Regions from separate parts of the Homo sapiens genome. Here region 2 is linked to region 1. Evidence: fine-mapped expression QTL. A gene starts in region 1. The other region holds a variant in brackets. All regions are shown on one strand. Distances are between the middles of the regions. Region 1 holds the start of LRPPRC (leucine rich pentatricopeptide repeat containing). Region 2 overlaps LRPPRC (leucine rich pentatricopeptide repeat containing).

Region 1 (4,395 bases):
ATTATTGCCTCTGGGTTTTGGTGTTTGCTGTTCTCTAAGCCTTAACCACTCTTTTTTTTTTTCTCCTTCCAGAAAATTCTCCTGGCTTCCTCCTTTCCTTCCTTCAGGTTTCTGTTCAACGTTTTTCCTATTTAAAATATCAACTCTCCGGGCGTCGTGGCTCATGTCTGTAATCCCAGCACTTTGGGAGACGAGGCAGGCAGATTGCTTGAGGCCATGAGTTTGAGACCAGCCTGGGCAACACGGCAAAAACCCGTATCTACTAAAAATACAAAAATTAGCCAGGGCTTGGGCCTGTAATCCCGGCTACTCAGGAGGCTGAGGTGGGAGGATCGCTTGAGCCCAGACGTCGAGGCTGCAGTGAGCCAAGATCGTGCCATTGCTCTCCAGCCTGGGTGACAGAGCAAGACCCTGTCTTGAGAAAAAAAAAAAAAAAGCAACTCCCCCCATGACACCCTCAATCCCTTTACCCTGGCGTATTTTGCATCACAGTTCTTTTTGTCTTCCCAAATTAAACTTTAAAGAGCTTAATTAGAATCTAGGGTTGGTTTGTTTTGTTCTCTGCTGTATTCCTAGGATTTCAAATAGTGTATGGCACTGGATATGTATTCAATAAATACGTGTTGAATAGGTGAATAACTTGTATTCCCAGTGCTCAGTAATATAACCCAGAGTCAATCAATTCACCTTGTTTCTTTTGGGGGCTTGGAGCGGGTGTCTTCGTTCCCTCATCTCTCAAAGGAGAGGTGAGCTAGGTCATCTCAAAATAGACATTAATTTAACACATATTTAATGAGACCTACTGTGTGTCTGGCACTGGGTAGGTGTATGGCCTACAATAAGAGATCACAGTCCCTACTGATAAGGAGTTCGTGGGATTAACTGATAAGGAGTCCAGTGGGATAAACAGTCACTTCGGAAATGACCGTGGGAGGGCTTCCAGAGGAAATACCCGCCGCGTTTGCCTCGTGATAGGTAGGGGACAGGCAGGTGTAGAGGGAGTGGAAGGCTGTTCTCAGCTTCCCACGTGTGCACAGGGAACCGATCCAGTCTGTAAGCCCTGTGAAGGCAGCGACGTGGTTTTTTTGTTTTGTTTTAGACAGAGTCTCGCTGTGTCACCCAGGCTGGAGTGCAATGGCGCCATCTTGGCTCACTGCAACCTCCACCTCTCGGGTTCAAGCAATTCTCCTGCCTCAGCCTCCCGAGTAGCTGAGATTACAGGCGCCCGCCACCACGCCCGGCTAATTTTTTGTATTTTTAGTACAGATGGGGTTTCACCATGTTGGCCAGGCTGGTCTCCAACTCCTGACCTCAGGTGATCCACCCGCCTCGGCCTTCCAAAGTGATGGGATTACAGGCGTGAGCCACTTCGCCAGCGATGGGTTTAACTTGCCAGTTTTCTCCCCATATTTGGCTGGAGACTCTTAATTACATTGTTCTTTTACTTCTCACATGTATATGTGCATTTACTGAAGGGAGAGGCGCGGTAGGGGTGGAGGGTTGGGGAAGAGAGTCAGTTCAATTCCAGCTTTAAAACTATAGGATTTTTGGTAGAATTCATTTATTTTCTAAAGCGAGGCCCCGCGTACGCGCTTAGGGTGGGGACCTGCGCGTTCCTTTACACTGTTCCCAGGCCCTGATAATCCACATCCTATCATGTTGAACCTGGGAGGCAAACGGCAAGGTGCAAAAGACCTCCACGGTTTCTCCGGCCCGCGTTTCTGAGAGTGAAGGGCCGTTCCTATTGGACATGGCGTCAGGGCTGAACGTTAGCAGCAACATCTGCACTCGGGGGCGGGGGAAACCTTCCCACGTCCTGGGATCTTCATAGTCGGCTCTCCTCGAGAGTTCTCGGTATTTTTACTAGTTGGCCTCCCACAAGCCTCTGCGCCAACCTGGGAGGAGTTGACCTCTTGCGGCTCTACCAACAGAGGAGTGCAGGGGTGCAGCGAATGAACACGATGCCCAGATCGGAGACGGAAGACGGAAAAGAAAAGCTTCGATAATGAATCAAGCAACATCGTTTATGTAAATATTACATTGGGTCTTCTGTCCTCGGAGAAGTGCGGTTTTCCATCTTCCAACCTAAAACAATCCGTCGCTCCCCCCACATTTGGCACGCCCGGCAGTTGGTCTCTGCCGCGCCAGGCTACCCTGCGGTCACATGCTCCTCCTGTCCTTCTGGCGGAGCGTGCTTCCCGCTGCGGGGACGTTCGAGCAATGGCAGCCCTGCTGAGATCCGCGCGTTGGTTGCTGCGTGCCGGGGCGGCCCCGCGCCTCCCGCTCTCCCTGCGCCTCCTCCCTGGCGGCCCGGGCCGGCTGCATGCCGCCTCCTATCTGCCCGCCGCTCGCGCCGGGCCCGTGGCCGGGTGAGTGCCCAGGCCCTTTCTCCAGGCAAGCTGCGGCGCCAGGGTCCCCCGGGGTCGTGGGTGCCGGCAGGGACCGGGTCCTGCCTGTGCTCGCCACCCTTCTCCCCGCCCCAGGACCTAGCCTCCCCGGGCTCCGCACCACGCTCCCTACCAGGGGTTTTCGGGTGACAGGGTTAAGCGCCTTCAGAAGGTCACGGCTGTGGGCATGGCCTGCCTCCGGCTTGAATCCTGCCCCCGCCACTTCAGCCTGGACCTTACTGCCCTCGGGGTACCCATGGTCAACGAAGATGAGGGGGGCTTTGAAGACTGCTTTGGGAAGTCGGGTGGTGGTCTTTTCCTTACACTTGGCCAGCTTGGGTGGTGTCCCACGTGCGGTCACCGTTGGTGATCAGTAACCACCTAGCATTTAGATATTGGAAATTTAGCTTTTTGCGAGGGATGGGGCGGCGAGGAGTGGGTTGGGAGTTTGGGTGAGCCACGGATGACTTAAAGCTGGACGCTGGATTATGATCACTTTGGGCTTTTGCCTGCGTTCTCTTGAATGGAGTTTTCCTTCAGCATTTAAGAAGGTGTTGCGCGAGTTGGGCTGGAGTGCAGTGGCGCGATCTCAGCTCACTGCAACTTCCGCTTCCCGGGTTCAAGCGATTCTCCTGCCTCAGCCTCCCGAGTAGCTGGGATTACAGGTGTGCGCCACCATGCCAGGCTAACTTTTGTACTTTTAGTAGAGACTGGGTTTCACCATGTTGGCCACGCTAGTCTCGAACTCCTGACTTCAAGCGATCCTCCTGCCTCGGCCTCCCAAAGTGCTGGGATTACAGGTGTGAGCCACCGCTCCCGTCCTGTAAGTGTCTTTGAATGAATGAGCACATGCAAGGCACTCTGTTGGAATCTGGGGATGCAAAGGCAAGTTAAACTCTAAGTGGGTGTCAGATAGGCGAATAAATGCTCTCATGGTTTGAGGTTTATCAGAGATAGGTTTGGTATAGACTTTTGTAGTGGAGGGGAAAAGAAAAGTTGGTGAAAGTGTTCATTTGGTTATTAATAGTATTCTGACCACCAGAGAAGGGGAGATAGGTGCTGAGCTTTTAGCATTGGAGAAAAAATGATTTTGAAAGACTGATGCTTGTAAATTAAGGTACTTTGAGAGCTCGCGTAAGGACTGAGAGCCAGGGATCTGCAGTAGGCTGGGCCCAGACTGCAGCCTACTCCAGATTTATCTGCATTTTATCCTCAAATTATCTGCATTATGCCATTAGAGAAGTTACTTAACATCTCCAGGCCTCAGCTTCCTTAGCTATAAGGTGGGAGTAGTAGTAGTGTTAGGAATATTGCAGAATTATCTGTATTAAGCACTTAGTATAGGGCCTGATGCCTAGTAAGTGCTTTGTTGGTTACTACAGGAGTCATAATATCTACGGTTATGCGGACCTTCATGGACCAGCCTGAACACCTAATCTCGCCATAAAATTACGTGGAGGAAATAATTTATGATTTCTTAACAACTTAGTTATAATCTTTGGAATGGAGCGTACTTGTAATTTGGAGTCTGCCTATATTTTCTTATTGGGCTTGAACAGTTAACTTTCCGAAATCATGCCTCTGAGCACAGAACTATATACATCTCTTGGCTTTCAGAGTTTCTTTTGAGAAAGTTGTGCCCATTACTCTTATTTTTCTAATCCTCAGCATTTCTGTGAGGCCAGGGGAAGGTCCACATTTTCTTTTATCTTCACTGTTGCATTTGAGGAGAACTGAATAAAGAGAGAACATAGTTTAGTAGAAAGGGTGGTCTCGGTGTTCATCAGACCTGGGTTCTGTTTACTTACTGCGTAATCTCAGCCATCTTACTAACCTGTCTGTTCCTCAGTTTCATTATCTGTAAAGGCCTTTCCCCCTTATCTTTGTAAAGTTGCTTTCTTATCATTCAGATCTCAAATGTCTCTTCAGGGAAGCCTTACCTCAACACTCAATCCAAAACATGCCGGTCCCACTGTAGATTTATTCGTGGCACACCTCACTTGTCTGA
Region 2 (4,395 bases), 95 kb after region 1:
TTCCTATATGTGCATGTGTATTTTTAAATTTTTATTGACTATGCTTTTTAACCTGTTTTTCTTTTTTCTCATTTGAGAATGAGTGGTTTAAGATTGTAGATTTCAAATAATCATAAATTCTTTATTCATTAATGAACACTAAATTCATCATGTCTTTCCACTGTATTTTGAGTACACTTCAATTAATACACTTTCCCCATTTTTCTGTAAAACTAAGCTGTTCTTAGTTGGAAAGCTGTTTGGAGAGTCTTAGTTTTGTCTAAGTTACATTGCTTTAGTTGCTATAAAGCTATTAAGTTTTCTTCGATAATGGTAGGGGTGATTGTTAGGCTACTCCTCAGTCTACCACTTTATTTCATATCATGATTTTGCTACAGTTTTATGAGTCAGTTAGCTAGAAGGCTATTCCATAGTTATTTATAATCAAGTACTTGAAAGTGTGATACTTCAAAAAAACATACAAACAAAACTCCATTGATTATACTGATGCTCCTCAACTTACCGATGGGGCTAAGTCGGGATAAAGTTGAAAATGCATTAACTACCCCATAAACCCATCGTAAGTCAGGGACTGTCTGTATTTGTGGAAATCAGTAGGCATTATTTTTTAATTTAGTGCAGGAAAATAATCACAAGGCATCTAATCATAAAATAAATTTGTTGGTGTTAAAGTTCAATGTTTCAGTTTGGAACATTGATCCTAGAGGATCAATGTTTTTAGTGTTTTTGAGAAAGAATTGTTGGGATATTAAGTTTTGATGATCATTTAATCTTCGAGTTAAAATCTGGACAAGTATGAACATGGATAGAAGTCACACATTTTTGGAAACTCTAGAAAATCTTTCTTATTTGTATTCATTTGAACTTACCAACTTTAGTCACTGAATGTTATCCCTAAATGGAACTCATATTGTCGGTAACATTTGTATTTTCTCTGTGACTTAAAGAAGAAATTCCTCGGGCCTCTAATATCTTATATAGTCAAGTAAATAATTTTTGGGGGTATCTCATGAAGTATTAATAATTTTCTGTAATCTAAAATTAATTATTCATAGCTTTTTGTTTATGGCCATTTGGTGCTCATATTTAAAAGCTGGTTTTCAAAATGCATTAAAGTCAGCACAGGTCATATAAGAAAAGCCATCTCCTGCTCTTGTATTTTAGAGGCTGTGACAACACTGAAAACAGTATTGGATCAGCAGCAGACCCCTTCTAGGTTAGCAGTGACCCGTGTCATCCAGGCATTGGCCATGAAGGGTGATGTTGAAAACATAGAAGTAGTTCAGAAGATGTTAAATGGACTCGAAGACTCCATTGGACTTTCAAAAATGGTTTTCATCAATAACATTGCTTTGGCTCAAATAAAGAAGTGAGTATTTGCAAGCCTTCTTTTCCTTCATTGGTCACTAGAATGGGCATTGCCTCAGATACCACCTTTTAAAAACTTTTTTAGACATGTGGAAACCTTATCAACTGCAGAGGAAATGTTGATGCTAGTTGCTGATTAGGGAATAATTATATGTTGAAAAATATGTTTTTTCTTTACCTTAAATCTTAGAATAAACAGCATTTACCAAATTCATAAATCTTGCTCCACAGTTGATAACCTTTCTCATTCCTGTGTATATATGCCAGGCCTCTTGTTGTCGAAACACTTTGTTCAGAAGTGAAAAATGATCTCATTTGTTTGTCAGTAATATTTGATAGGGACACTAGTAGAATATTGTGAAGCAGAAGGCCCCGCAAGCTTATTAAAAATGTGCATTTCCGTATTCATATTCCTTACCCACCCCGTGAACACTCTCCCACCCCCACAAAAAGGGAGGTATTTAGAGCTGATTTTCTTACCACTGTCTCTAGATTCCTTTTGAGAATTACCCCTGTAGAAATAAATAAGGACTTGATTTTTAATAAGCTCCCTAGCAAAGTACTTTATGGAATTTGATACTTTCAGTATGCTTTTAGAAAAAATGTTCTTTAGTAATCTTGCATACATTTAATGGGACATGATATTAAAATATAATGTTTGTTTTTGTAGGGGTTTTTTTTTGTTTGTTTGAGAAACAGTTGTGTTTTGTTTTGACCTTTTCAAACTATTTCGCCAGATAGAACTTCCCTTTAATAAGAAAATGTGATTGTTTTACATTAGAAGATTGAAGAAATTACTCATCTAAGAACTGGGTGAATTTTAAAGTTTTACCACATAAACACAGTTTTATATGATTCGGAGAACATATTCACTATTAAGTAATTCCTTAAAACTTGTAAGAGAAATATATTGTAACAGTATTCATTTTTAGTTAGAGAATTATGTTTAATATAATAATTTCAACACA[A/G]TATTGACTGATTGGATTTAGTATGCCATATGGTAACAGTAAAGTATCCATTATAGATTACCTTAACCAAAAAGATAGTCATAGAGATAATTTTTACCATAACTTGCTAAATAAGACCATGTAACTGATTTTTTTCAATGTAAAGTGTGAAGATACTTTTTCCTGAGATTTTTAGTATAAACTGAGTATTTTCCAAATGTATAATACCTGACAAAAAGAAATTGAGGCGACCATAAGTTAGAGACATGCATATATGCCTTTTGAAACATCATCAGTATCTTTAAGAATCCTGAGATGTTAAATACTATTTTTATGCAGTAGTGACAAGTTGTGGATCATAAAGCCAAAATTGTAGCATTTATACAAGTTTTCATTTTATATCCAAAGAGTGGCAAAAATTAAGTTAAATATTTAAGATACAGAATTTTAAAAGTTATCTTCATTAATTCTCCTGTATATAGTTGTTTGATCTTGTCTGTAGAGCATTGTTAAAACAAGCAACTATTTGAACTGCTGTGAAGCAAAATAAACAACCACTGCAGCACGAACCAGCTAGTGAATGTTTTTGCTACTTAAATGTGATTCAGGGTTTCAGTTGCCTAGTGTTTATTTGGTTAAGTGTAAATGTATTTCATTTTTTTCCTAAAGTATTAGCATGAGTGGATATAAAAGTAAGTTCTTAGACTAAACTGCCTGTAATATTAACATAAAAGCAAATTTTTAAGTAATTTATTTTGCTTTTAACAGTAATAACATAGATGCCGCAATAGAAAACATTGAAAATATGCTTACTTCAGAGAATAAAGTCATTGAACCCCAATACTTCGGCTTGGCATACTTATTCAGAAAAGTAATAGAGGAGCAGTTGGAACCAGCAGTTGAAAAGAGTAAGTTAGTTGTTTGTGCTAAAGAACACACAAGCACATTTTCTCTCTAGTGAGACTAGACCAAATTTCTTTGGTAGGTGAGTTATACCACTGTTCTAATGAAAGATTTTTCTTACCTGTCATTTTTCCAGTAAGCATCATGGCGGAGAGATTGGCCAATCAGTTTGCAATTTATAAACCTGTCACTGATTTTTTCCTTCAACTTGTGGATGCAGGCAAGGTGGATGATGCCAGAGCTCTCCTACAGGTAATGACCCTCCACTCATGGAGCAGTGGGGCTCGAGGCTTGCAAGAAGTAAATTGAGAAATTACTAGACATAGGCGTGTGGTGGAATACTAGAAATTCAGTGTGGTGTGCAGCTAGCTTGTTTACATTCAGTGTGAATCACGGTTGCAGGACAAGGACTGGATGGTAGATTTTAGGTTACTGGTTTTAAAGATGCCAGATCAAACTAGAAATGTCTTTAGAATTGAGGTAGCGGGGAGCGGCGGGTGGTGCGGGGGTAGGTATGGGGCAGCGAGTTTCGCTGAAATGATTAAAGACAAATCTTTCTGTGCAGATAGATAATGCAAAACAACAATTCCTTTGATTTTCTACTTTAATTTCTCAAATGCGCTAGATACTGTGCGTCACCATGGCAACACAGTTTGCAAACAAAAAGTAGGAAATGTTTGCTTTTCAAGTACAGCTTCTCACTTGAATACTCAAACATTCTCAGTGCCTTATTCAAGGTTTATTAAGAGTTGAATATGCTTTCTATTCACTTGTGTGTCACAGACACATTAAATGACAAATGCAGGTCTCTGTGGCCCGCACTCTCAGTTAAATTAGCAACCTTCAGGGAAGGAGACAACTGCATTCATGCCATTTTAACAGCACTAAATATAAAGCTATGCCAAGTGCCGACAGAACAGTGGGTGATCCTAGCTGCCACTGGCAATGTACACAAACAGGCACCGCCGGGGAGCCCCTTCCCAGCAGGTGGCAGTCAAACAGTCACCGTGATCCCGCCAACGGCTGTGTTTGTGTAGACTCCCTGTGTCAAATTGAGGCGTGGGACCAATTTCTGATCGTAAATAGTATTATATTCCCTTACATTTTTACCAGCTGTGAAAGATCTTAAGTAGTAGATAGGGAAGGTAAAACTACCCATGTGCTTGACCTCCAGTTT

The links. PIP is the estimated chance that this variant, and not a neighbour inherited with it, causes the effect. A credible set is the group of variants that fine-mapping cannot tell apart.
Region 2: its variant is the best candidate, but not a certain one, in a credible set for the expression of LRPPRC in esophagus mucosa (GTEx, PIP 0.74).

Annotation. Positions count from the first base shown.
Region 1 is chr2:43,993,773-43,998,167 of GRCh38, reverse strand. It overlaps LRPPRC (leucine rich pentatricopeptide repeat containing), which reads left to right and starts at 2,179. Exons shown (of 38, transcript NM_133259.4): 1 at 2,179-2,369. The coding sequence starts at 2,221. RefSeq lists enhancers at 1,902-2,181, 1,977-2,628 and a silencer at 2,282-2,601.
Region 2 is chr2:43,898,294-43,902,688 of GRCh38, reverse strand. LRPPRC (leucine rich pentatricopeptide repeat containing) reads left to right here. Exons shown (of 38, transcript NM_133259.4): 32 at 1,165-1,369; 33 at 3,084-3,223; 34 at 3,355-3,470. Among named protein-coding and RNA genes, the nearest start is that of ABCG8, 62 kb to the right of the region's middle. RefSeq lists an enhancer at 4,025-4,319. The variant A/G (reference allele first, on the strand shown) is at 2,337.